Homo sapiens: one gene and its partners. The protein of the gene in region 4 purifies or fractionates together with the protein of the main gene of each other region. This does not show direct contact. Each region holds a gene or a part of one and is shown on either strand. Other genes may lie near its edges. The genes, in order: POMK, ENDOD1, TMEM63B and SLC19A2.

Region 1 (7,026 bases), on a different chromosome or scaffold from region 4:
ATGACTTCTTGTTTCATTGTGTATTTTAGGAAATTGCAGAGGCCGTCAACATGGAAAAGCAGCCCCAGAACAGCAGGAGAGGCCTCGCCCCCCGAGAGGTGCCGCCAGCTGTTGGGCTGCTGCTGATCATGGCCCTGATGAATACTCTGCTCTACCTCTGCCTCGACCACTTCTTCATCGCTCCTCGACAATCCACTGTGGACCCCACACACTGTCCCTATGGTCACTTCAGGATAGGACAGATGAAAAACTGCTCACCTTGGCTGTCCTGCGAGGAGCTGAGAACAGAAGTGAGACAGCTGAAGCGTGTTGGGGAAGGAGCTGTAAAGAGAGTGAGTCCGGGTTCATTTGCGATTGCTGTCATCCTGTTATTTCGCTTAACACAGTGTCCTCCAGCTCCATCCATGCTGGCACGGATTACGGAATTTCATCCTTTGTTACTGCCAAAGTGTACTCCATTGCATATGTGCACCACATTTGCTTTGGTTGATTCTGTATCTTGGCAATTGTGAATAGTGCTGCAGTAGGCATAGGTTTCAGCCCTTAGGGAAGCAGTGTGGCATCCAGTGTTAGGAGCCCTGCTAGCTCTACGTTTTTATTGTTGAGCTCAATAATCTTACATCTGGCACTTTATCTTTTTTTTTTTGAGAGTCTCGCTCTGTCACCCAGGCTGGAGTGCAATGGCGCCATCTCGGTGCACTGCAATCTCCACCTCCTGGGTTCAAGTGATTCTCGTGACTCAGCCTCCCGAGTAGCTGGGACTATGGGCATATGCCACCACGCCTGGCTAATTTTTTAATTTTAGTAGAGATGGGGTTTCACCATGTTGGCCAGGCTGGTCTTGAACTCCTGACCTTAAGTGATCTACCTGCCTCGGCCTCCCAATCGGACTTTATCTTAATAAGTAATCCAAGGCAGGAAAAAAGTCAAATGCATAAAAGAGTGCCATAGTGATAGAAAACTAGAAACAAAACTTTTAGAATAGTTCATTAAATGATGGTCCATCCACTTGACGGAATATTCTGCAACTGTTGTGTAGTTAGGAACCCCAAGAGGCAACATGAATAAAACCTTATGATGATAAGTGAAGAAAACAAGATATAAAATTGTATAATTGACTTTTCAACTGTGAAATTACGTGTATATGTAGATAAATACAAAAATGGTCAGGCGCAGTGTCTTATACATGTAATCCCAGCACTTTGGGAGGCGGAGGTGGGCGGATTACTTAAGCACAGGAGTTCCAGACCAACCTGGGCAACATGGCAAAACCCAGTTTCTACAAAAATACAAAAATTAGCCTGGCATAATGGTGCGCACTACTTGGGAAGCTCAGGTGGGAGAATCTCTTGAGCCTGGGGAGTTTGAGGCTACAGTAAGCCATGATCTTGCCACTGCATTCCAGACTGGGTGACAGAGCAAGATGCTGTCTCCAAAGGAAAAAAAAAATATGAAAATGATAGAAATTGTGCTAGGGTGAAAGGGGGATTATGGGCAATTTCTTTTCCTGTTTTTCAAACTCTGTGATGGTATTATACTGATTTTTAACAATTTATTTTTAATTGGCATGTAATAATTATCCATATTTATGGGGTACACAGTGATGTTTCCATACCTACTTACAGTGTGTAGTTAGCGGATCAGGGCATATCTGCCATCTCAAACATGTATCACTTCTTTTGGTTGGGAACATTCAATATCTTCTCTTCTGGCTATTTGAGAGTGTATAATATATTGTTAATTATAGTCATCCTATGGTGCTATGAAACACTGGAACTTGCTTCTCTTATCTAGCTGTAATTTTGTATCCTTTAACAAATCTCTGCCTATCCTCGCCTTTGCTCTACCCTTCCCAGCCTCTAGAAAACTGTTAGGCTTTTTACTTCTTTGAGTAAGCTTTTTTAAACTTCTGCATATGAATGAGAACTTGTAGTGTTTAACTTTCTGTTCCTAGTTTATTTCACGTAACATAATGTCCTCCAGTTCCTTTCATGTTGCCATAAATGACAGATTTCCTTCTTTTTTATAGCTGAATAGTATTCTATTTTGTGTATATATACCACATTTTCTTTATCCATTCATCTGCTGAAGGACACTTAGGTTGATTCCATATCTTGGCTATTGTGAATAGTGCTGCAATAAACATCGGGATGCACATATCTCTTTTTTTGTTGTTGTTTTTTGAGACGGAGTTTCCCTCTTGTTGCCCAGGCTGGAGTGCAATGATGCAGTCTCGACTCACTACCACCTCCACTTCTGGGTTCAAGCAATTCTCCTGCCTCAGCCTCCTGAGTAGCTGGAGTTACAGGCATGTGCCACCATGCCCGGCTAATTTTATATTTTTAGTAGAGATGGGGTTTCTCCATGTTGGCCAGGCTGGTCTTGAACTCCTGACCTTGTGATCCACCCACCTTGGCCTCCCAAAGTGCTGGGATTACAGGCGTGAGCCACTTAGCCTGGCTGTGCATATCTCTTTGATATATTGATTTCCTTTCCTTTGGATATATACCCAGTAGTGGAATTGCTGGATCATATGTTAGTTCTGTTTGTAATTTTCTGCGGAACCTCCATACTGTTTTCCATAATGGCTGTACTAATTTACATTCTCACTAACAGAGTATAAGCGTTCCCATTTCTCTGCATCTTCACCAGCATTTGTTATTTTTTGTCTTTTTGATAATGGCCATCCTAACTGGGGTGAGATGGTATCTCATTGTGATTTTGGTTTGCATTTTCCTGATGATTAGTAACATTGAGCATTTTTTCACAAATTTATTGGCCATTTGTATGTCTTCTTTCGAGAATGTCAGTTTAGATCATTTGCCCATTTTTTGATCATATTGTTATTTTTTTCTGTTGAGATGTTTGAGTTCCTTGGATATTGATCCCTTGTTAGATGAATAGCTTGCAAATATTTTCTCCCATTATGTAGTTTGTCTCTTAACTCTATTTGTTTCCTTTGCTGGGAAGAAGGTTTTTGGTTTGTTATAATCCCATTGGTTTACTTTTGCTTTTTTTTTTTTTTTTTTTTGACTGAGTCTTGCTCTATCGCCCAGGCTGGAGTGCTGTGACATGATCTTGGCTCACCGCAACCTCCACCTCCCAGGTTCAAGAGATTCTCGTGCCTCAGCCTCCTGAGTAGCTGGGATTACAGGCGCCCACCACCATGCCTGTATTTTTAGTAAAAATGGGGTTTCTCCATGTTGGCCAGGCTGGTCTTGAACTCTTGACCTCAGGTGATCCGCCCTCCTCGACCTCCCAAAATGCTGGGATTACAGGCATGAGCCACTGGGCCCAGCCCTCAGTTATAATTTTGCAAAGGCGGTTTCAATCCCTCCCTTTGGGGTTTTGTAGCATCTTATTCTTAAGGTGTGGGCTATGAAGATGGAAAAAGGCCATTGATCACTCTAGCTTCTTCATGCTGACAGGGGGCATAGTTGGGGTCGGAGTTGACCCTAAGGTGAGAGGAGTAGAACTGCTTTGCAGCTGTCTGAGTATATTCATGCAGGCCGGGCTGTGGTTCCAAGGCTTTCGTGACAAAGGCAGTAGTATCTTTATAGTTTTAGTACAGCATTTAAACAGACAGTCTACTATAAGGTAAATAATGAGTTTTAGGATAAGGAGTGCAATTTCCAGTTTTAAAAGTAAAGGTTTGAAAGCATTAGTCTGGGGACTTATAGTCCACAAAAATATTAGGATTTAGTCTAAATTGAAGAAAAAAAAAACTAACAACATGTGTACCATAGTTTTTGGAACATAATTTTTCTCTCTTTAGTCCTTATTTTTATTAAAACAAATCACGATAGGACTGATTTGTTGGCAAAATAAACTTTAATTTTATTATGCTTGGCCTGATTATTTGCATAAAGCGCATCAGTAATACTTTTTTTTTCCGAGATGGAGCCTTGCTCTGTCGCCCAGGCTGGAGTGCAGTGGCGTGATCTCAGCTCACTGCAACCTCCGCCTCCCGGGTTCAAGCAGTTTTCCTGCCTCAGCCTCCTGAGTAGCTGGGATTACAGGTGAGTGCCACCACACCTGGCTAATTTTTGTATTTTTAGTAGAGACAGGGTTTCACCACGTTGGTCAGGCTGGTCTCGAACTCCTGACCTCGTGATCTGCCTGCCTTGGTCTCCCAAAGTGCTGGGATTACAGGCATGAATCAGTAATCACCTGGCAAGAATACTTTTTTTTTTTTTGGTAGAGATGGAGTCTTGCTCCGTCACCCAGGCTGGATTGCAGTGGTGTGATTGTGGCTTACTGCAACCTCCGCCTCCCGGGTTCAAGCAATTCTTCTGCCTCAGCCTCTCGAGTAGCTGGGACTATAGGTGCACGTCGCCATGCCTGGCTGATTTCTTTTGTATTTTAGTAAAGACGGGGTTTCACTGTGTTGCCCAGGCTGGTCTTGAACTCCTGAGCTCAGGCAATCCGCCTGCCTTGGCCTCTCAAAGTACTAGGATTACAGGCATGAGCCTCTGCGCCTGGCTAGAATAATTATTTTTTACATAGGCTTTTTAAATTGCCTTTGATGGAACTCTGTTCCATAAGGAATCTCAGATAAGACTTTCTAAAGCTGAGTCCAGCCATAGGTTTGTACCTTCAAATACTTATGAGTTGGGTAAGTTCCTCTCCTCTTGATGCCCCTAGATAACTTGGGGCTCCTGGGCCTGTCAGAAAGTGACATTCTATACTTACCATGGGTCAGGAACCCTGTACAGGGACTGTGTAGACAAAGTATGAGCTCAGTTTTCCCAAGGGCTTTTACTGGCTTTACAAGTACAAGTCAAGGTTGATTCCATAAAGGAAAGCATGCCATTCTAGTCAAACCCTTGGTAAAATAACCAGTGTTTTCAATAGTGTCCTGTTACAAAAGAAAACAGATTCTTATTGTATTTATGAAAATAACTGTATTGCCATAAATTAAGAATACTCACAAATAGTTTTTAAATTCTGGAGAAATCAAGTAGAAACAAATATGCGCCAAATTTTATTCACAGGAGTGTACTTTACTCAGTTGCTACAAGCTGTAAATAGCTTAAAAGAAATTTCCCTGACTCTGAAAAAGCAAAGAATCAGCAGCATTTTAAACAAAAAGGTTACTTCAGACTTTTATTAGTTTAGTCCATGCATTTAACTTCTGTTTGATATTTATGAACATTTCAGCTTTCCATGAGAGTTCTAAAAGTTTTTTTCCTTTATTCTATGTCATAATCTCCAGAGTTATCAGAAACTTGCATTCAAGAGCACATATCAAAGTTTTATAGCTGATTATAAAACCATCTTCTAAAGAGGACCAAATTAAAACAGCAGTTATCTTTGGATGAGAAAAGCATTTTAGGGAAGCCACAAAGACACAATTAACAAGGAAATTTGTGAATCTGTGGCACACAATAATTCAACACAACAGTTATTACTGATGACATATACTGAGTCATATCAGAATTGTAGGAATTTTATACAGTTTTGCAGCACGTAACTTTATATCACAAATTTATATGAATATAACCCAAAGAAAGTTAAGCACCATTTTCTATTTGACAGTGTTTCCTGCATGATTTTAATACATTAAATAAGCTGAATATGTCTTTTGTACTTTAGGGGACTTAATTTTTAAAAATTTTTTATTTTAACTTAGAGCTTGATTTTGAAAGGTTTGTTAAATACCAAACGTTTAAAACATTGGATATTACAAAATGGAGTCTTAGGTTTCCGTAAGTCATTCATTTAGCCAAAGTAACTCAAAAATTTTCAAAAGGAAAAACCATTATTCTGGTAGGAGACTCAGCTTTCCAAACAAGACCCAATGAAGGTAGCATGAGGCTGATTGCCTCCTCTCTCTCCCCTCCCCCTTTTTTCTTTTGTAGTTTACTTAAAAGGTAAATAAAAACCTTTCATTATCTTTTAATATTCCATAAAAATCCTTTTTAAAAGAGAAAACTGAATTTTATGTTTCCATTAGTGTATTTTTAACGTTAAAGCCAGTTTTAATTACATCTTATAAATCTGTCTAGTTCTAATTAGTTTGACCATAAGGTAAGATTTTTTTTTTATTTTTTATTTTTTTCAAGACGCAGTCTCTCTCTGTTGCCCAGGCTGGAGTGCAATGGCATGGTCTCGGCTCACTGCAGCCTCCATCTCCTGGGTTCAAGTGATTCTCCTGCCTCAGCCTCCCGAGTAGCTGGGACTATAGGCATGTGCCACCACACCTGGCTAATTTTTGTATTTTTAGTAGAGACAGGGTTTCACTATGTTGGCCAGGCTGGTCTCGAACTCTTGACCCCTTGATCTACCTGCCTCAGCCTCCCAAAGTGTTGGTATAACAGGCGTGAGCCACCACACCTGGCTTGCCATAAGGTAAGATTTTTATGAATCTTTTATAACCCTTTACAATTTTGTTTTTTTCTTAGAACAAAACTGTTTTAAGAAAACTCTGTTGTGCTTTTATTCCAATTTCCAATTTATGGAAAAACTGCATAACGTGACTTAAACTTTAGCCAATATGTTCACACACAGAATCTCTTACAATTAAGTTTTTATAACCCTTTCACAACTTGTTCAAACCTTTAGACTTTTCCTATCTCATTTAAAACAGTCCGTTAACACTCTAAACTTAGGCAAGAAATCCACATTCCCATGCCTTCTCATAATCTTTTACCAAAAGTACATTTTACTTCCCTTACATGCCTCGTGTATAGAACTGTTTCTTCAGTAGTCTCAAGTGCATATTACACTGTTAACTCAATGACTTTTACTTTTGGTGGAAAGCCTGGTGAGTAAGCAATTTCAATTACGTACCAGGAGTGGAGCCTAGGACACCAGAAGGTCTGACTGTTTCCAGTGTAGCTAGGGAGTGTGGCTAACTCCACATGTCTCAGGCCTTACCTAGCTATAAAGCAGGCAAGTTGTACAGTAAGAGTCATAGTGGCATTTTATGAAGTATTTAACAGGCCTAACAACCTTTGAATTGTACAACATTTCTTGCATAAATTGCCTTTTCATGAATACGTTCACAACTTACAGAGACCATCT
Region 2 (7,131 bases), on a different chromosome or scaffold from region 4:
GGTCAGCTAGACTATTGGGAAAAAAAAAAAAGCTAGATGAAATGAGTGAAGGGATGAGAATGGGTGGTGAGAATTCCAGGACAAGGGAAGTAGTTTATGATGCAAAGTTTCAAAGACTAGAGAGAGCATCAGGCTGAGTTCAGTGGCTCAAATCTGTAATCCCAGCACTTTGGAAGGCCAAGGCAGATGGATCGCTTGAGCTCAGGAGTTCCAGACCAGCCTGGGCAATATAGCAAAACCCTGTCTTTACAAACAATACAAAAATTAGCTGATGTGGTGGCACACGCTTGTAGCTGCAGCTACTAAGGAGGGTGAGGTGAGATGATCAATTGAACCCATGACATTGAGGCTGCAGTGAGTTGTGACTGCACCATTGCACTCCAGCCTGGGTGACAGAGAGACCCTGTCTCAAAAACAAAACAAAAGAGAGAACACTGTGCATTCATGGAAATATAAGAAGCTGAGCGTGTGGGCAAGGTGGGAGTGGAGAGAGATGAGGCCTGAGAGGGAAAGGCCAGGTCTCTGGGGTCATGGAAGTCAGCTAGTATGTCAGGCTGCATCCCAAGGTAAATGGAGAGTGATTAAGTGCTGTAAGGGTAGGGTGACATCATCAGATTTATGTTAGGAAGTCATCCCAGCTGGAGAGTGGATTAGAAGGGATGACGGGATAAAAACTGGGCATGACAAATGAGGATGGCTTGGTCAAAGGTGTGATGGTAGAGATGCAATTATCATCAGAGCAGTGAGGCAGGGGAAAGAAGTGTCTAGTTGGGCTCATATTTTTAAATAACTTTGGACAGAACCAACCAAGCCACAGAAGTGCATGTCAAATGTTTTATTCCACATCAACCATTACTTTTCATCCTCAAGCCTTTGCTGAAGGCTATGGAACCCAGCTTTGGCTGGGTCTGAGTGCAGAGACCTAAGAGGATCTGGTTTGAAACCTCTTTCCCTGTGAGAAGAGAGTCAGTGACCAAATGTAGAGACAGCAGTGAATTATTGATGGACCTACATGTTTTACACATACAGATGCTGCTAAAGACAGTTTTCCCCTAAAATCAGCAGTTAGCAAATGTTTTAATTAGATCAAGGCATTCCTACCTTGTAGGTTGTTCCAGAATCTTGGGGTGAGAACATTTGTAATTTGCAAAAGTAATATTTTATCTGTGGAAGGCAAGCACATGGAAGAAAAATCTATTGTCTTGTACTATAAACTAAAGAAAATAAACAAAATCATCCTGGCTGTGGGATGTACAAATGTTCAGTGTTATATGTGTGTCAGTCACTGATAGAGGGCTGGGGAAAAAACTAAAGTCTGCCACAGGGACTGAGTGGCAGAGATATTTATGCTTATCAGAGGTGGCGGGCAGGCATCAAGAAATTTTGAGAAAGTGAATTAAAGTCTTATAAATACTTTAGTCATAAAGGCCAATGATGATTGTATTATACTTTCTGCATTTGTTAAAATACAACATAATCATATTTGGCATCTAATCACTCCAGATTTTGTGGTAGCCACTGGGATCCACCAACCACCTTTGTCCCTAGGAGCACATGATTTAATAAAGAAGACAGATACAGGGACTATTAACACTCTACCATGATAAGTATCATAACAGATAAATGTTTAAAGAACTCAGAGAAGAGAGGGATGGATTTCTAGTTGTTCAACTGTGTTTATATATCTTTATGGTAGACATCATAAGTCAACATTGGGGAACCCTATATTCAACCTTATAAAATAATGTAAATATTTTTAAAATCCTGTAAAACCTATAATCCTCCCAGCATCCCAGGAGCAGCATTGTCCCTGTGGGAGGACTTGATTGAAGCCTACAAGGATGAGATGACTGAGATACTAGTACCAGATGATCAGGGTCATCATCCAGATCAAAGGGGACTTCAAGTCTAGCCTCTTCTGTGACATCACACTAAATGTGTCCCCTCCTTTTTTTAAAAAAACTAAGATACAAACTTTGGTTTCATTTCTGGGACCAAACATAGTCAACATTTTCCGGAATTAAAACCTGTAAGAAATTTGTTCTTAAGTTCCAATGTATAATCTCTTGAAGAGCTTCCTTCTTTATGGGCTCACCTTACAGATGCGCTGTGAGTTAAAAGAAAAGGCCAGGCTTGGGAAGCAGAGAGACCTGTTTCAAATCTGTCTTAGGACTCACTGGCTGTGCCAGCTTAGGCCAGAATCAACAGGCTCTGGTCTCAGTCCCTGTAGTGGCACACTGGGGAAACAGATGACATCGTAAGATGAGCACAGGCCCTGGCCCTGGGTAGCTGCCTTGACCCTATCTCTGCTGCCACCATCCTACCATCCTGGTCCAAGCTACCATCTCTTATCTGGATTGTGGCAATTATGGGGTGTTTTTCTTTTCTTTTCCTTTTCTTTTTTGAGACAAAGTCTGGCTCTGTTGCCCAGGCTGGAATGCAGTGGCACAATTTTGGCTCACTGCAACCTCCGCCTCCTGGGTTCAAGCGATTCTCCTGCCTCAGCCTCCCAAGCAGCTGGGATTACAGGTGCCCGCCACCACACCCAGCTAATTTTTTTGTGTTTTTAGTAGAGACGGGTTTCACCAAGTTGGCCAGGCTGGTCTCAAACTCCCGACCTCAGGTGATCCGCCTGCCTCAGCCTCCCAAAGTGCTGGGGTTACAGGTGTGAGCCACCCATTTATTCTGTGCCACTTCAATCTACCAGTCTCTTCCCTGATAGCAAAAAGAATCGAGTCACCACCTTTAAAAGATGAAAATCCTCAACATGATTTACAATATTTTTTCCAAACTGCAGGTCATGAGCCATTAGTGGCTCATAGAAACAATTTAGTGGGTCAACACCAGCACTTTTTTAAAAAAGTGAAGTAGAACAGAAATATGAAATTGCAATGCCAATCATAAGCATAAGAATTATTTCATCAAACTTTTCTCATTATGGGCCTTCTCAAAAAGTGTTTGAAGGCCTCTGGCCTATAATAACCTGAGTAATATGACCCCTGCCTCCTCCTTTAGCCCCACTTCCCATCATCCCCCACGCGGTTCTCCGCGCTTTACCCACACTAGCCTTCCTTAAATTCCTCCAATACATCATGTTCCCTTCTGTGGGAGACCACTTAGCACATGGTTTTCCTCCTTGCCTAGTTAATGTCATCCTCCAGGTCTCAGCTCAGATGCCACTTCTTCAGGCAAACCTTCCCGGATTACATCCTGAACCCCTGTAGCTGTCAGGGTCTCACAGATCTGTGTTCAGTTTTTAGTTATCCCTTTAATAGCATGTTTCCTCGGTTAATGACAAACTTTCCCACTAGGCTGTCTTTGTGACCGCAGGAGCCCTGCTCTTGTTTACCCCTGTGGTAATCCAGTGCCTATCTCAGGCTGGCACCTAGGCATTCAGAGGGATAAATGAAGGAAAGAATTGGCCAACCTGTTGACCAATGACGTTGGCTGGCCTCCTTCCTTGCTTGGTATCGGTTTTGTTTCTAACACTTGCACCAAGAAAACCACACAGGGTTATACTGTCTGCCTAGTTTAGGAACTTCCTTTAACAGTATTTCTTTACTCTCTGAGTTTCTGGTGAGCTAAAAAAACATAACAAAAAACAAAAAACTCCATCAAAATTGTATGCGTGTGCTGGTCGTTGAGTACTTCGGTGGAGAGTGGGAGACGCATCTTCATGAAATTTCAGAGGGGAACTCTGCCCATCCACTCCGAACCAGCCGCAGCTCCACGAGCATCTCACGCCACCCCTCTGCATCACCAGGGCGGCCGTGGGGCGCGCGCGATCAGCAGGCTTCTTGGCGCCCAGTCCATGCGACTATCTCTTCCCAGCCCCGGGACTAGGCCCGCCCCACTCGGATTCTCCACTCTTGGTAGCGCGCGTCCCCCGGACTGCTGAGACCAGGCGGCGCGGAGGCAGGTGACCCGCGTCTCCAGTCCCGGGCGCAGCCCAGGGTACGTTGTCAGCATCGCGGAGCGCGGCCCTGGGCCTCTGCAGCCATCTTCAGGGAGGGAGGCGCGGCCTCCCGACGCGGACCCGCCCCCGCCGCCCGGGCCGCCCCGCCCGGCTCCGCAGAGCGCCGCGCCTAGGTTGCGACTTCCCTTCCCTACCCTGCTCGGCTGCGTAGTGCGCTCCCCGCCCAGCCTGCAGAGCTCGCGCCGCGGCAGCCCAGCCGCTCGGCCCCGCCGCGCTCGCAGAGGCCGCCATGGGCACCGCGCGCTGGCTCGCGCTGGGCAGCCTCTTCGCCCTGGCTGGGCTGCTGGAAGGCCGGCTCGTGGGCGAGGAGGAAGCCGGCTTTGGCGAATGTGACAAGTTCTTCTACGCCGGGACCCCGCCTGCGGGGCTGGCGGCCGATTCCCACGTGAAGATCTGTCAGCGCGCGGAGGGTGCTGAGCGCTTCGCCACCCTCTACAGCACCCGGGACCGCATCCCCGTGTACTCCGCGTTCCGCGCCCCGCGCCCTGCGCCCGGCGGCGCCGAGCAGCGATGGCTGGTGGAGCCGCAGGTAAGCGAAGTGGTTCCCGAGCCGGGCTGCGGGCGCCGGAGACCGTGCCGCTGGACATGCCCCCAGTTGCAGCTACCGCGAGGGGCGGGCCGGGAACAGCAATCCCTACGCCTTCGGTGCCTTGGGCCAAGAAACCCGGGTTCCAGGTCCACCCTGTTGCGTCCCCGGAGTTAGCCTGCCTCGCCCCTGTCGAGCTACAATAAGAGCCTGGCGATCTGCGAGCCTTCACTTCATGAGCTGCAGGGCGGGAGGTCCCCTGTGGGAGGAGGTTCTCCCTGCATTTCTGAGCAGACATCCGCAGTGTTTCATTCCTGAATGGTGAAGAGCTTGATACAGAGACCCTGGAGACCGTTCAGATCCGCAGAAAGCCTAGGCTGGGCGCTCACAGGCCTTCGTGCAACTTATTGCCATAGCACTCATTTGGAGGTGGGTAGGTGGGCATTTTCATCCCCATTTTACAGAAGAGGAGATAAACCCAGGGGGTGAAGAGACATATGGAAGACTACCCAGTTAGTAAGATGGGGCAGGTCTCTGTCTAGAAATTCACTGCCTTTTCTACTAAGTAAAGCTTCTCTTCTGCAGAGCTCATCCTAGCCTGAAAATCCTTCCTCTACCACGGCGTTGAGTAAATTCGATCTGCGGTTGTGTTGAATTAGAACAATGAAATAAAGATACAGATTTTTAGAAACGCAATGGGGTAGTTAAAAATGATAGGGAAACATTGACTACCTCCAACTGATGGAAAGATAAGCCAGTTTTTCCTGACTCCTCATATCTATATTATCATACCACTAGGAAATCGTGTCACCTCTCATGGTGTTCTGTCCCGTCTGGTAAAGGTGACCAAACACTTGAGAAGCCCTCAGAGTCTTCCGAACCTGCTGGCCTGCTCTTAATACCTCTCCTCAGTTGGCCTCCTCTCTAGAACACCCTGCCAGACTCCCCTTTGCCCTCTCACCAGCCTCCCACCCCTGCCCAGGCTGCTGGGGGAAGAACTGACCCAACGCTCTCCCTTTCCTGACGGCCACAGCTGCCCAGGACCACACCAGTGGACAGGAGGCTGGCTTTCAGGTGCTTTATTCAGAGCCTGTGGGTTGTAATCTCATTCAGATATTTCTAGCTCTGAGGTCTTGGCCAGGTCTCAAACAATCTGCACCTAGTTTTCTTATCTTCCTCACATCCTTCCACCTACCTCAACTGTTGATAACACTTGTCGAGATCAGGCATGTGAAAAAGACGTTGTCAGTTGCACACACAAGACACATTTAAATCCAAAATTAGTTTTCCACCAGCTGCACCCCTAGAGCTCACAGGGTGTTCCCCACCTCTCATCTTGCATTGTGATTGTGTGCCTGCGAAGAAAACAAATGAGCTAGTTCTTTCCCCTTGATCTCATGGACAGCTTGGGGAGACAGAACATACGTCTGAGGAAATCATGGGAATGGATGCTAAACAAATTTCAGTTAAATTCAGAACACATTTAGTGACTCCTGCTGTGTGCCAGATATTTGGGACCAAGAGATCTGAGTGCAGTTCTGGAACAAAGGCTACCTGATCTGCAGGTGGAGTTTGCTGGGTGGAGAGGTGGTGTAGTATCTGATTAGAGCCATGCTATGTGGGTTCATATCCTAGTTGCTCCACTGACTAGCTATGAACTTGGGCAGGTTAAATTGGAGATAATAGCATAGGGTGGTGTGAAGATTTAATGAGTTACCATATATAAAGTTCTCAGGTGTGTGACACATGAGTACTAAGTACTAGCTGTTGCTATGACCTAAGCAAAAAACCATAATTTAATAAAGGTGAACAAAGTCCTATTAGATTTAATCTGTCTTTGAGGTGATGGAAGCAAGCCTTAGGGTCAGGATGACATTTCTGCTGTGTGTGGAAAGATAAGGCAGAGTTTAGAAGGGAGGCAAGGAGGAGGACATTTCAAGCAGAGGGAACAAACATCATGAGTGAGAAAGGCATGGCAGATTCAGGGATTTGTGCGTGAAGAAGTTGGAACAGGTAAACTAATACAAATAGATGAATGCACTCAATTGCTCAGAATAAAAAGGAATCATGGAAGGGAGGGATCAGGTGGGGAGGAGCCACCAAGGAAGGCTTAGGGAGGCAGAGCCATTTATGCAGCTAGGGAAGGAGTGAGTCGTAAAGGAGCATAGTTTGACAGAAAGAAGTACAGGGAACCAGGTAACATGGAGACCCTGGGTGAGATAATGAGGAAGGGGACTGTGGAGATTAAAGAAGATGGGAAGGGAGGGTGGAAATAGTTACAAATGGCAGCTTGAGAGGTAAGATGTACAGCGGTTCTGAAGAGTACAAGGGGCCTGAGTTCCTGCTGTGCTGAGAGGTCAGAATGGTCACTGTGGCTGAGCACTGCAGGATGCTTTTCCCTGCAAGGTGGCTGGCCTCCCACATCCACCCGCTCGACCTCAAGTCAAGTCAGCCAGGATCCAGAGAGTATTGGGAGAGAGGGAGGGAGGAGGAGGTGTGAGGTGCAGCTGGGCCTGGAGTGCACTGCAGCAAACCTGCCCCCACTGTTGCCTGCTCCCTGAGGCCCTGCCTCCCAGCCAAGATCCCCACTGCAGAAAGATGCTCAGGGCTCAATGTGTACCCTTGGCGG
Region 3 (7,026 bases), on a different chromosome or scaffold from region 4:
AGGACCCCCAAAGACAACCCAATGAGACCCTCAAAGAACCCAAAGGCTGACAGCCCCAGGAACACCCAGAAGATTCCCCCACTTAGACCATAACTCGAGTTACCCCCAGAGTGTGACATGAGCCTCAGATACCTCCACAAACAAGCTTTGAGACCCTTCCCGCAACATCTCTGGGGGAGCCCAGGAACCTTTATCAGTGCCTGAGATGCCCCAAGTGTGACTCAAAGATCACCACAGATGGCCTACAGCAAAACCCCTAGAGTTTGTGCCCACAGCCATGGTGCATGACCTTCAATATATCCTCACATGATTCCCAGAGAAGATGCCCATACAGAACTCCACAGTTACATCTCTGAATAAAAGCCTGAAATTTTAGAGATGTTCCCAGAACTTGTACTGCTAAACATCCCAAAGTGTGAGTCCTTTAGCCTCCCCGCCCACAGACACCCCCAGAGTTATAAGGTCAAGAGCCTCCTACACATACCCAAAAATATGGGCTCTAGAGACCTTCAGGGATACCCCTAGTAGCCTCCAAGACACTCCCTAAGTATCACCAAGACCTCCCTAGAGATGGTTCCCCAAACCTCCCAAGTGGAACTCCAGAGACGCCCACAGTTAGTCCCAGAATATGGGCACAAGACACCCCCATAGAAACTACCAGAATGTGGAGCCCCAAGCCCCAAATATACCTTGAGGATGATCTTAGCATCCAAACAGGTTACCAGAGAGTGAACACCAACACAGACCCCAGGGACTTCTACCATGTATACACACCCAAGACACCTTGTGGGTGCCTTTGGGGTAACCCCGCCAGATCCTCTCTCTTCTGCCCCCTCCAGGAGTTGGAAGCTTTGTTGCACCCTCCCATGGGGCTGGCAATGTCTCTCAAGCATACCCACCCCTGCTGTCTGGTCTCTTTCCCTAGGGGCCCCAGTCACTCACTCAAACCGAATAGCTGCCTCAGCCAAGAATTTCTTATCAAAGAGCCAGCGGAAGAAGAGGTCCAGGCTGGAGGGAAGCAGAGGAGAGATGGGGTGGGAGCTGGAGTGGTACAGAACACCAGGGGAGGGGAAGTCCCTCCTCTGTGAGCCACTGGGGAGACTCCCAGACATGGGGTGGGTAGCTCAGGAGGCCTGGGGGTGGCCAGGCTTCCCATCTTGGGCCCCTTGCTTTGTAGGGGAGGTAGGGAGGCTGAACTGCTCTCCTCTCCCTATCCTGCTGTCCCCCTACCCTGGCTCCTGCCCCATCCTTCTCAACTCACCTGCTCAGTCCCAGCGAGGGTAGGAGCAGCACCATGAAGATGAGGAAAGTGTAGCACTTGTGCATGGTTGTCCTGTTCTCCCCAGAGCTGGAGGGAGGGGAGCAGGGAACGGTACAGGTCAAGTGAGCCCAGGCCCCAGACTTGCTCCCCCAACAAGGACAATGTCCAAGGAGTGTCCCCTGGGAAGGGTGGGCCTCCCAAGGTGAGGGTGCTGGGCACTACCCCTTCCCTACCAGCTGTGGGACTGCCCAGGGCCAGGAGCCTGAAGGGCAAAGTGCTGCCCAGAGAGGATGGGTCATTGAGGGCAGGCCACAGCGAGGTGTGGTGTGAGTGGAGGCACCTTACCGTGTCCAGTGGGCTTCAAAGAAGGCTGAGTAGTAGACGATGGTGGGAAGGAGGGCCGAGAAGCACCACAGCAGCAGGGTGGGGAAGAACTGGGTGATGATGGGGTTCTGCAGCAGGGCACAGGGGGGCGTCAGGCAGGGCAGTCTAGGGGGCCCAGGTGGCTTTGCTTATGTGCCTCCTCCCCAGCTGGGCCCTTGGCCTCACAACTCTCAGGGCTCCCATGTTGGAAGCCCAGAACATCCGGAGGGCTGGGGTGAGGGTGGGGGCCAGGGCCATATGTATAACCCCAGGGTGGATAATACTGATAGTCAGCATTTGCTGAACATCTACTATGTTCTAAGCAGTGCTGATGTACTTGCCATGTCTTAATCCTCACAATAATGCTGTTACCCCATTTGACAGATGAGTAAACTGAGGCAAAAAAAAGATTCAATAGCTTCCCTAGCTAGCAAGCCATGAGGTAGGGATTTGAATCCATGCAGTCTGGGTCTTATCTATTATGGTATTATCACTCCAAGTGATTTGCAAACTGTCCTTCTTCAAACTCTGAGGTTCTAAAGAGGTATGCTCTATGCGTGGGAGGAGAGGTGAGGGGAGGCCAGGCAGACATGCATGCCACCCTACTGTCATCGGAGCAGCCCTGCTTTTCCACACTGGGTTTCACACCGATAAAGAGATCAGAATCCAAGTCCAAAGCCACTGATCTAGTTGAACCTTTCCATTTTTTCAGTTAGACTGAGGGGTGAGGGAAGGGGACTTCTCTGAGATCAGGACTAAATGCAGGCTCTCTCTCTTCCCTGGGTGTTTCTCCAGGTGTTGCACACCTGAGGGTGGCCTCTCTCAGGGGGAAGGTGGCAGGGAGCCCAAGGGAAGTGCACACAGGGGTTTTTGGGAGCTGGTTGGTGGCACGGGGTTGGAACAAGCAGAACGGGCTGGGCTGGGCAAGTGGAAGAGGGATCAGGGCCTGGTATCTGTGTGTTGTGACCCAGCGTGGAAAGTGACAGGGGCATGAGGCCTCACGTTGAGGTACTCCACAGGCTTGGTGACGTTGAACTTGTCCATGGTGGTGATGATGATGGCTGGAGTGGTGAGGAAGAAGAGGAGGATGAAGAGGACGACATTGATGACCAGGCAGCGCAGCCACCAGATGAAGCCTCGGATGGAGAGGTGCTCCCTGGCAAGGTGGGGAACCGGTCAGTCCAGGAACCAAGGGCAGGATTGGCCCCCAGTGACACCAAGACACTCCCTCTCCTCCGCCTACCTACTGAGCCCATCCCAGGCCCTGGAAAGCCTGCCCTGACACCTGTTTGCTCACCAGTAGATGTTCTGAGGGTCAGGGGCATAGGACACGGTCCAGTTGGAGATGTGCAGGGACTCGCTGCAGGATGAGGGGCGTGGCTCCCCACGGCAGGTGCAGCCCTGGCATTTACACACGTTGAAGTCCTTCAGGATGCTAGAAAGATGGGCACTGGTTACCACAGGCCCACCTGGAGGCCACACTGCTGGCAGAAGGCCATGAGCACAGGGGTCAGGGAGCCCTGGAGGGCTGCTCAGGGCCGAGGGCCGAGTTGGGGACTCACATGGCGGTGATAGTCTCATTGTGGAAGGTGACAAAGGCCATGCCAAGAGGCTTCTCATTCACCTTCTCCTTCTCCCGCTTGTAGTCTTCCTTCAGCTTCTGCTCCAGCTTTGTGTAGTACTCAATGGCCTCCACCTTTGTGGGAGGGTTAGGGACAGGGCCTCTAGTTGGAAAGCCAGGCTGGGGCCTGCAGCATCCAGCCCACGCTGACTTGGGGCTTCCTACAAGCCAGGCACTGCTCCTCTAAGCATTTTTTTTTTTTTGGAAACAGCGTCTCGCTCTGATGCCCAGGCTGGAGTGTAGTGGTGGAATCTCAGCTCACTGGAGCCTCAAGCTCCCAGGCTAAAGTGACCCTCCCACCTCAGCCTCCCAAGTGGCTGGGAATACATGTGTGCAGTACCATGCCTGGCTAATTTTTGTATTTTTTGTAGAGATCAGGTTTTGCCATGTTTCCCAGGCTGGTCTCAAACTCCTGGCTCAAGTGATCCACCTGCTTCAGCCTCACAAAGTGCTGGGATTACAGGCATATGCCACCGCACCCAGCACCTCTAAGCTTCTTTATATGTATTACTCACTTTACCCTCACAACACTCTCATAAGGTGGGTACGTTAACCCCATGAGGAAACTGAGGCACTGAGCAGTAAGCAACTTGCTCAAGTCCCCAGAGTCAGTGGGTACAGCACAACATTGTCCTTTTGGCTGACATTTTCTAATTTGAGGTTTGAAAACCTGGTCACTGTAGGGACATTAGACAAACCCAACAGTGGGAACTGAGGCTTCAAGGATTCCAGGGACAGGTGGGGACTCACTGAGGGCAGGGCCCCAGCCTTGCCTGCCCAGGACCTGTCCAACTTCTCCCGACTCAACAGCCAGCCCGCGTCATACCTGCTCACAGCCTCGCACCACACAGCAGCAGAGGTGGCCACAGGGCTTGGGGTTGATCATGGTAGGCACGTTCTCCTTGCTCTGGAGGTTTGTGAAGTACAGCTTTCCCCGCTCGGCCTTCTTCCTGTGGGACCCAGATGCCTGGTCACCTACATCTGGGGCTGGGGCTGGCTCAGCTTGGGGGTCATCTAGCTCACTCCCCAAGGACAGGAGCTGTCTTGTTCTTGTTTAGGATACATGTTTCAGATGTGGCCACATCCCAAGGTCTCCCCACCCATCCCTAGAGGGCCAGAAGTTCTTCCTGCAGGCTGACCTAAATTTCTCATACTGTAGCCAAAGAAGGGCATGTCCTCAGATGCAGTGGGGACCATGGGCCCCCCTTCCCCTCACAACAAACTCTAACCTCCAGGCCTTGCTCTTTCCAGAGCTGAATTAACAGGCACACCAACGAGTTGAATTAAAATCAAATGCCCTAGGAAAAAATCTAGAAGGGGAGCCTGTGTGGTAGCCAAGATGTCCTCCACAATGGCAGGGGGCCCTTGGTGTCACCCTCCTCTGCCCCCAGTCCCTTACCTCTCTGCATCGAGGAACATTAGGCGAGCCACGTTGTAACACGGGCGGGCTTCGAGAACTGTGCAGTTGGGGTAGGCTTCCCTGAAACACAGTTCATGTATCATCTTGTGCAGGGACCCCACCCACCTGCCCCTGACTTTCATCCATGACCCCATCACCTTCAAGAAACACATCTCTGGCTGGACGTGGTGGCTCACATCTGTAATCCCAGCACTTTGGGGGGCCGAAGCGGGAGGATCACCTGAGGTCAGGAGTTCGAAACCAGCCTGGCCAACATGGTGAAACCCTGTCTCTACTAAAAATACAAAAATTAGCTGGGCATGGTGGCACGTGCCTGTAGTCCCAGCTACTCAGGAGGCTGAGGCAGAAGAATTGCTCGAACCCGGGAGGTGGAGGTTGCAGTGAGCCAAGATCGCGCCACTGCACTCCAGACTGGGCGACAGAGCGAGACTCCATCTCAAAAAAAAAGACAAAAAAACCCACATCTCCAATTCAAGCTGCCTTTTTCTTAGTCTACAAAACTGAGAGTTCCCCAAGAATAAAGCTTTGGAGTTCCTCCTCATGCTTATCTGAGTGGGGAAGTGGGAGCAGAAGGCCTGAGCACTGTGTGACTGCAGGCTGGGCTAACAAACCAGGATGTGTAGGGACATACTGCATGCAGGTAGGGAAGCCAGGGCTATGGTCTGATTCCTGTCCAGGGCTGTGACCTTTAGGTTGAAAAAAATTGCATCTAGTCATAGGCTATATAATTCCTTAACCCTGTTCCCAGAAGACCTGGTCACAGCCCAACACTTAGCCTTGACCACAGACTGACCTCAACCAACCCATAACCCAGTCTACAAAATGATCTCTAACTTTGGCCCAAGACAGACAAGAGATTGATCCTGACCCCTGACCAGGGTGAGACTGACCTGTAACCCTGGCCAAAGACTGACCCTTAAGCCCACCCTGGCCAAAGACTGACCCCAGACCTGTTGCCCAGACCCAAGACTGACCTCCTAACCCTGACCCCAGATTCATCCTTACCTTGACTTAAGACTGACCAGAGAGAAACTGGCACTGACTCACTAGTACCTGGTACCAGGCAAGGCTTGAAGAATGCTTGCTGAGTGAAGGAATAGTTCATTTTTTTGTTTGTTTGTTTGTTTCAAATATTCTGAGATGGGGTCTTGTTGTATTGCCCAGGCTGGTCTTGAACTCCTGGGTTCAAGTGATCATCCTGCCTCAGCTTCCCAAAGTGTGGGCATTACACTAGTGAGCCACCATGGCTGGAGGGAATAGTTTCTTTTTGTTTTTTGTTTCGTTTTTGTTTTTGTTTTTGTTTTGTTTTGTTTTTGAGACGGAGTCTCACTCTGTCACCCGGGCTAGAATGCAGTGGTGTGATCTGGGCTCACTACAACCTTTGCTTCCCGGGTTCAAGTGATTCTCGTGCTTCAGCCTTCTGAGTAGCTGGGATTACAGGTGTGTGCCACCACACCCGGCTAATTTTTTTTTTTTTTTTGTATTTTTAGTAGAGATAGGGTTTCAACATGTTGGCCAGGCTGGTCTCGAACTCCTGACCTCAGGTGATTGGCCCGCCCTGGCTTCCCAAAGTGCTGGGATTATAGGCATGAGCTGCCATACCCAGCCTAATAGCTTTTTTTTTTTTTTTTTGAGGCGGAGTCTTGCTCTGTCGCCCAGGCTGGAGTGCAGTGGTGCAATCTCAGCTCACTGTAACCTCCACCTCTTGGGTTCAAGTGATTCCCCTGTCTCAGCCTCTCCAGTAGCTGGGATTATAGGCACATGCCACCACGCCTGGCTAATTTTTATGTTTTTAGTAGAGATGGGGTTTCACCATCTTGGCCAGGCTGGTCCTGAACTCCTGACCTTGTGATTCACCCACCTCGGCTCCCCAAAGTGCTGGGATTACAGGTGTGAGCCACCGCACCTGGCCAGTAGTTCGTTTTTAAATCTGATCATGCACTGTTCTTTGATCCTAATCCTTAATCTAGACTGAGTCCCCATCTTTTTATATTTTATTAAAATTTTTAGGTTGAACACAGTGGCTCATGCCTGTAATCCCAAAACTTTGAGAGGCTGAGACAGGAGGATTGCTTGAGGCCAGGAGTTCATGACCAGCCTGGGCAACATAGTGAGACCCTGTCTCTAAAAAAAGAAAAAAAAATTAGCCAGGTGTGGTGGTGAGTGCCTGTAGTTCCAGCTACTCGGGAGTCTGAGGCAGGAGGATCGATTCAGCCCAGGAGGTCAAGGCTGCAGTGAGCTATGACCACGCCCCTGTATTGCAGCACTCCAGCCAGGGAGACAGAGTGAGACTCTGTCTCAAAAAAAATTGTTTTTTTTTTTAAATGAAGGACCACCAAGTATTGAATGCATGAGTTACTG
Region 4 (7,026 bases):
GCTGATAATAAAGAACCATTATGAGTAAAGTCTTTCATTCTCTACTGAGAGTTAACTGAATTGTTTAAATGTGGCATCTAATGTCCTCATTGAAAATTACTCTCTTTTCTCTATCCCCGTTCTTCAGCTCTCAAATTACTACTTGAAATTTAGGTTATCATCCCAGAGAGCCTGGGTAGACTTGTAGAGCCTGGGCAACCCTCATCATGAAACTCACCTTGATTACCAGGGCACCTGTGAGCACTTTTTGTCAGAATGACCAAGGATTAAGTGGCAATGAAATGCTGATTTTTTTCATAGTTTGTTAGGTGATATTAGAGAGTCAACAGAGGGTTGATGGGGGAGGGAAGGAGGTGTGTAATCATTTCATAGATTTTATGAAGTGGAAAAAAAATAAAGACACTTCTTTATCTGTTTTGAATGTGTTACAGTGGCTTTAGCTAAAATTAACGTATATACAGATAATATGTGTATAAATATATATTTTAGATATTAACATATTGACCATAGTTCTAAAGATTTTTATAGACAGTTTCAAACTTTTTTGAATATAAGTAAGAAACATAGAAAACATTTTACATAGAAAACCTGTACATACATAGGTATGTATATATTTTATATATAACAGAAACAAGTTTTACAACAGTGTTTTATTCTGATACATTCTTTTATTTTTTTTAAATTCAGTTCACTGTCCTCTAAATCAATTTTATTGCCAACTTATGGGTGATGACCTATAGTTTTAAAAACTGTTCTAGATCAACTTGAAATACTTGTTTATAGATACACAGTGTGTCAGTATTTTATATACTGAAGAATTGTAGAATTTTAGAGTTAGAAATGACTCTAATCACAAGTCATAGAAAAAGCAGAGCATTTTAAAAAGAGATTAGATTTCATCAAGACTGTCCTTTTAGAGATAAGGATTAGGATCAGAGATTAGCAACTTATGCAGAATTGTACAAATATACTCTTGAACATAATTTAAAAGTGTGTATGAGATCCAGTTCTTTCTAAACCTTTCTCGGTGAAGTCTTTTAACTGGGGTAACAATGTCAGAACCATCATGTCAGTTACACTGTTTTCAGAATTAGGATTCAAGTCAGTTCCCTGATATCCTAGGCTCTGCTACTGATACCATAGCAGATGGGCAGTGCTGCTTGGTATTGGCACTGACTGGCCCTAAAATGCTGCTGTTTTTCTTTGGCAAGCATGAAGAAAATTCAGAATATGGATATTAGGGATCACAGAGCTATTTTAAGTTGACAAGACCTATAATTAAACCATAAATTATAATTGTGGTAATTATTGAAGAGTAGGTAGGTAGGTGGTTTTATCTTGATTTTTATAGAAAGAGAAAATGAAGTAAGAGGAGTCTAAGTGATAGCTCATTCTACAAGTTACCTTAGAGTATTTGTGAGTTATTTTTAAAGAGAGTCTATTGCATTGGGGCAAAGGGTGCTGATCTTGCAGAAAGAAGAACCAAAGCTGGTGACTTTCTTTTACAAGCAGAGCTGGATTCATTATGTAGTTGGCTGATTGGTGAAACTGATTTATTTTGAGTTCTTCATCTATTAGAAATGACATAAATTAAACCACTTCTTTAGCACAGGTTCTGACATGTAATTAATACCTAGTAAATGATTCTCTTAATATAGCCATGCTTTTATTTGTAGTTTGATATCTTTTACTACTAGTAAGTGTTCTTTCTGTGTCTGCATGTCTAAGGTCTCTAAACAATGACAACAGTGAAATTAATGCTTCCACTTTGGTATTAAATAATGTCATTTCTAGCAGCAGGGTGTAGTGAGTTACCACCTACCTCCCTCACCAAAACCCATAAAAATAAAAAACTACAATAAACCCTGAGAACCAAAATGAACGAAAATCTATTCGCTTCATTCATTGTGAGTTTTTAAGAAAGTGAAGTCCAAACCCTAGTTCTAATACTTGGGCAAGTTACTTAATTCTGTGAGATTTAGTTTCCTTATGTACATATCTACCTTATACAGTTATTTTGAGTATTTAAAGCTTTCAAATGAGTTTACATAGTAGGTTTCCAATAAATGGTAATTGCTATTATTACTATTATCATTATCATTACACGTGAATAATCCGGAACAGCTCTGTACTTTTATGGTAGATAGTCATGTATTTGTGAGGTTGTAAATAGAGCAATCTTTCCTTTTCTCTTTGAATTAATCACCCCTGGTCATCTTCATCATCATCATCATCACACCTCCTGTTTATTTTGACCTGGGTATCAGATACTGTGCTAAGAACTTTAGAGTCAGTATGTTATTTGATTCTTATTAAAACTCAATAATGTAGATATTTGCTCATTTTACAGAAGAGGAAACTAAATTTAGTTAACTGACTTGCGCAAAGGCACATAGGAAGTGGCACTTTAAAACTTTCCAACTCAGGCTGGGCATGGTGACTCACACCTGTAATCCCAGCACTTTGGGTGGGCAAGGCAGGCAGATCACTTGAGGTCAGGAGTTCGAGACGAGCCTTGCCAACATAGTGAAACACGATGTCTGCTAAAAAAAAAAAAAAAATACAAAAACTAGCTGGGCGTGGTGGTGCATGCCTGTAATCCCAGCTACTTGGGAGGCTGAGGCAGGAGAGTTGCTTTAACCCGGGAGGCAGAGGTTGCAGTGGGCTGAGATAGTGCCACTGTACTCTAGCCTGGGCAACAGAGACTCTGTCTCAAAAAAATAAATAAATAAATAAAATTTCCACCCATATCTAGTTGACTCAAAAACCACCACTACAGTAGAAACTTCCATTCCCTGATAGAGGGAAGTAATTGTTAAAGATTTTTAAATTTATAAAACAGCGTCAAAATCTTATGTTCAAATGAAATCTGAAACTAGATGCCCGTTATGATAAGTAAATAAAAATTGAGCCTTTCTGATTGAAACAGGAATGCAGGTCTGATAATTTTACATACTTGAGCCTGTTATTCATCCCACATGAAACTCTTAAAGCTCCATGGAACACAGTGAAGGCCACTTATTAAATTAGAGCATGCATGATTAACTATGAGCAGCTCAGAGTTTTGATGTAATAGAAATAAACCTTTGTTTGTAGATGTAATTTAACAAGAAACATAAAAGGTAATATGTCAAATGCTACTTTATAAAGTGTGATTCATATAAGCTTAACATTTGAAGCCTAGAAAACAGCATAGAAGGAAGCCTGCAGATTATAGCACGAGGTGCTGATTTTATAAACAGGACCTGCCATCTTTTCTTTTTGGCATGGCCAGATAATAGATTGAGTAGTTATTAACCTCTGTGTGTGGAATTCATTATTATGTAATAGATCTAAAGTTCTCAAATGCATTATACTGGGCATTATTTTATGTATGCCATGACTTTTTAAGCTATGCAATAAAAATAACACTAATTGAGCCCCTCTATAATAAATATATACATTATCTAGTGTAACTCTGTATAATCTTTTGTGGATAGGTTTTATTGTTATCATTTTCATTTTCTAGATGAGAAAAGTAAGGCTTTCTTATCAGTTTATGGTAGGATTTCTAATAGAAACTTGTGAATCCTTTTAATAGTTCCATTCTTCCAGGAATATACTTTCTTTTCTTATAATCCTTCCAGCATCCTTGAAAGTTTTAGATATCCCAGTTGTTTTCCAAGTTATATTGGTTAAGCAACTGAAGCTAAATAGTAAAATTCTGATGTAGTTCAATAAAACTGGTGGACCTTGAATAAAGACTTATGAAAATGTGCTTGGTACCATTCACTCACTCTTAGCAAATTCACATTATATATGATTAACAATTGTCTTGTGATTTGTTTAAATTCACAAGGTTTGCTCTCATACACAGTGCCAAGAAATCAATCTTGTAACAGCAGTATGTTGTACTTCTAGGTGGTTATCTTATGCAAATTCATCAAGTAGAATTTTCAAGTGTCGGTACTTCTTTCTCTGAGTTATTTTGATTAACCTCAGTACTCCTCCCTGAATTTTGGAAAGGGGCTGTAGTAATGGTACTTGAAGGATATCCCCCTCTGGGCTAAACAGCACAAAGAAGGAAGCACCACACTGGGGTTGCTTTGGGATGGTATGAGAAGGTAAAACAACGATGAAACTCGGATTCTCAGTCCAGTGAGGTTTTCTAGCCTCTGAGGGAGAAAATGGCCTTTATTTAACTAATGTTGATGGTCACTGTTACTGTATATAAGAGGAGAAAATATCTATTAATTTTATAAAAATGATATATATGGTGTGTGTGTATATATACACACACACACACACACACACACGTTTGTTTTTTGAGACAGAGTCTGTCTCTGTCGCCCAGGCTGGAGTGCAGTGGCGTGATCACGGATCACTGCAGCCTTGATCTTCTAGGTTCAAGTGATCCTCCCACCTCAGTCTCCTGAGTAGCAGGGACTACATGTGTACACCACCACACCCAGCTAATTAAATTGTGTGTGTGTGTGTGTGTGTGTGTGTGTGTGTGTGTGTGTGTGTGGAGACGGGATCTTACTATGTTGCCCAGCTTGATCTTGAACTTCTGGGTTCAAGCATTTCTCCTGCCACGGCCTCCTGAAGTGTGATGATTCCAGGTGTGAGCCACTGTGCCTGGCATCTACTTATTTTTTTAAATTAAATGTTACAGAAAGCTATATAAAAAATAAAAAATCACCTGAACTACTACCACCCAAAGATTAGTGAACTTCTTTTCAAACATCTCTTTTCCTATATACATATGTACGTATACATTTTATAGTAAATGAAATTGTGATCTACATGTAGTCTTGTAACTTGCTGTTATTTTACTCAGTGGTATATTGTACTCATCTTTCCATGGCTCTCATTTTGCCTTTCCATGTTAGCCACAAAAGTAAAATTTTCTGTGGGTTTTTTTTTTTTTTGGTAGAGATAGGATCTCACTTTCTTGCCCAGGCTGGTCTTGAACTCCTGGGCTCAAGCAATCCTTCTGTCTTGGCCTCCCAAAGTGCTGAGATTATAGACATGAGTCACTACACCCGGCCTTCCCATGTTCTGAGCAAGGCCCAGGGATTACAGTAACCTTTGGTAGATTAGTCCTTTCATACAGTTGAAATCAGAGATATCTCACAGAGTGTCTGACATCTCATATTGACTTCTTGGGATAGTGCGTAGCTCAGTAATGTCTTGCTTCACTCAATTATAAGCCCAGTAGCTTTATTTATTACTTTATTATAATACTATTTCTCATTGTTTAAATATTAAGTAATATAAAAAGTTTAAGGAAGAAAATTTAAATCACTAAGAACCCACCACCTAGAGAGAACTGCTAATATTTTGGTCTACTTCTTTCCAATATTTCTATCTTAACTGTTGGATCAGTCTGTCAATTATAACGATAGGAGGCCTTAACTGAATAGTGATTTATTAGGGTTGCTAGTCTGTTGCTTATTATTATTCTTGTTATGTTGTTTGCCAGTTTATGGGAGATGTAGATTACAGACTCCCATTGGCTGAAGCCTGCGGTCTCTTTTCATCATCTTCATTTTGTAAACAGTACATCTTTTGCTGGGTTGATTACATACAGCTGTGTTAATGCTATAGTGCATTTAAAGCAAAAATCCTATGAGAACATATTTTTCGCCAGAGGGGATAAATGTATTTGTTAATAAGTTTATGAAGTAAGCAGTTAGTTTTCACAAGGAAAAAAGTCTGTTAGGTAAGTAATTGGGCCTGTAAATTGCTTTCTATATAATTGCCTTCATCAGAGTTTGAGCATTGTTCCCTTTTGCTATGTAGGAACCCAAGCCAGACCGTCTCCTTGTATTGAAAGTACTATGGAATGATTTCCTGATGTGCTACTCCTCTCGCCCTCTTCTCTGCTGGTCTGTGTGGTGGGCCCTCTCTACCTGTGGCTATTTTCAAGTTGTGAACTACACACAGGGCCTGTGGGAGAAAGTGATGCCTTCTCGCTATGCTGCTATCTATAATGGTGGCGTGGAGGCCGTTTCAACCTTACTGGGTAAGCAATGCAGGATAATAGAGGGTCGTGGTGGGGGAGGGATTCCTCTGGTAGTTAAGCCAGCCATAATCAGATTTATTCACCCCTCCCAAATTTGAAATAGCCTCAAAAAATGATTATTTTGAGCTAGATTTTACAATTTAGGAGGACAACTTAGAAGTACTCAAGTGGAGCAGGACTATGACTAACAAACTGGAATTTTTTTATAAGCTTTGAGTAAACCTAATATAATAATTTTCAAGATTGTTTATCCAAGTTTCCATTATCTCTGTATTTACTGGGTAGTTTTGTCACTTGATGTGAAATTTTGAATGGCAATATATAATAGTTTATAACAATAGTATCTAATATTTGTTGAATGTTAATATGTGCTAGGTACTGTTCTATGGACATTATATACATTAACTCAATCCTCACAAAATTCCTGAGATAGGTAGAATTTATCCCCATTTTGCAATGGAAACTTGGGACTGGTAGGTTAATAACTTGCTCAAGGTCATATGGATGGTAAGTAGTAAAGTCAAGACTTGAACTCAGGCAGGATGGCTTCAGAGCCTGTGTATTTGACCATCTTACTCTATTGTTCATTTCTAATTTGTTGACCTACCTCCTGAGGTTGTTGGATGGTGTTATATGATTTCTGTAAACACTTATTATCTGTCTTGGCCCTCAGAAAACACTTCATAGATTTTAGCTATCCTTATCATCATCACTGTTTTACCAAAAGGCAGAGAAGCCCTTTTGCCATGTTCTAGACTGCTCCTTGGTTTGAAGGAGAGATGACTCATCCTGCCATGATGCCAAATTAGAAGCTATGGTTCTTTTTGACTCTTGCCTCTGCTTCAGCTGCAGCATTTTTTTTCCTTAGCAATGTCCCTGTGTCTTTGTCCTGCATTTTCATCTCATTGCCACCTCTCCTAATTCAGTCTGTCATCTCAGTGGCTCCATTTTATTGATTCCATCAAGTTCAGAAATTTCTGTGTGAGTTTCAAGGCCCTCCATAATCTTGAGCTATTCTG

The links.
Region 1: the proteins of SLC19A2 (region 4) and POMK purify together in Homo sapiens (affinity purification with mass spectrometry; 4 studies listed by BioGRID and IntAct, with this or other methods). This does not show direct contact.
Region 2: the proteins of SLC19A2 (region 4) and ENDOD1 purify together in Homo sapiens (affinity purification with mass spectrometry; 2 studies listed by BioGRID and IntAct, with this or other methods). This does not show direct contact.
Region 3: the proteins of SLC19A2 (region 4) and TMEM63B purify together in Homo sapiens (affinity purification with mass spectrometry; 2 studies listed by BioGRID and IntAct, with this or other methods). This does not show direct contact.

The regions. Positions count from the first base shown.
Region 1 is NC_000008.11:43,103,499-43,110,524, forward strand, and holds part of POMK (protein O-mannose kinase), read left to right. Parts: intron 1-29; 5' UTR 30-50; coding exon 51-332; intron 333-7,026. UniProt on the Homo sapiens protein: Protein O-mannose kinase that specifically mediates phosphorylation at the 6-position of an O-mannose of the trisaccharide (N-acetylgalactosamine (GalNAc)-beta-1,3-N-acetylglucosamine (GlcNAc)-beta-1,4-mannose) to generate phosphorylated O-mannosyl trisaccharide (N-acetylgalactosamine-beta-1,3-N-acetylglucosamine-beta-1,4-(phosphate-6-)mannose).
Region 2 is NC_000011.10:95,085,723-95,092,853, forward strand, and holds the start of ENDOD1 (endonuclease domain-containing 1 protein precursor), read left to right. Parts: upstream 1-4,123; 5' UTR 4,124-4,205; coding exon 4,206-4,505; intron 4,506-7,131. UniProt on the Homo sapiens protein: May act as a DNase and a RNase. Plays a role in the modulation of innate immune signaling through the cGAS-STING pathway by interacting with RNF26.
Region 3 is NC_000006.12:44,144,546-44,151,571, reverse strand, and holds part of TMEM63B (mechanosensitive cation channel TMEM63B), read right to left. Parts: intron 4,726-7,026; coding exon 4,645-4,725; intron 4,196-4,644; coding exon 4,072-4,195; intron 3,321-4,071; coding exon 3,187-3,320; intron 3,060-3,186; coding exon 2,922-3,059; intron 2,781-2,921; coding exon 2,627-2,780; intron 1,714-2,626; coding exon 1,607-1,713; intron 1,349-1,606; coding exon 1,262-1,348; intron 1,009-1,261; coding exon 943-1,008; intron 1-942. UniProt on the Homo sapiens protein: Mechanosensitive cation channel with low conductance and high activation threshold. Osmosensitive cation channel preferentially activated by hypotonic stress.
Region 4 is NC_000001.11:169,468,945-169,475,970, reverse strand, and holds part of SLC19A2 (thiamine transporter 1), read left to right. Parts: intron 1-5,784; coding exon 5,785-6,007; intron 6,008-7,026. UniProt on the Homo sapiens protein: High-affinity transporter for the intake of thiamine. Mediates H(+)-dependent pyridoxine transport.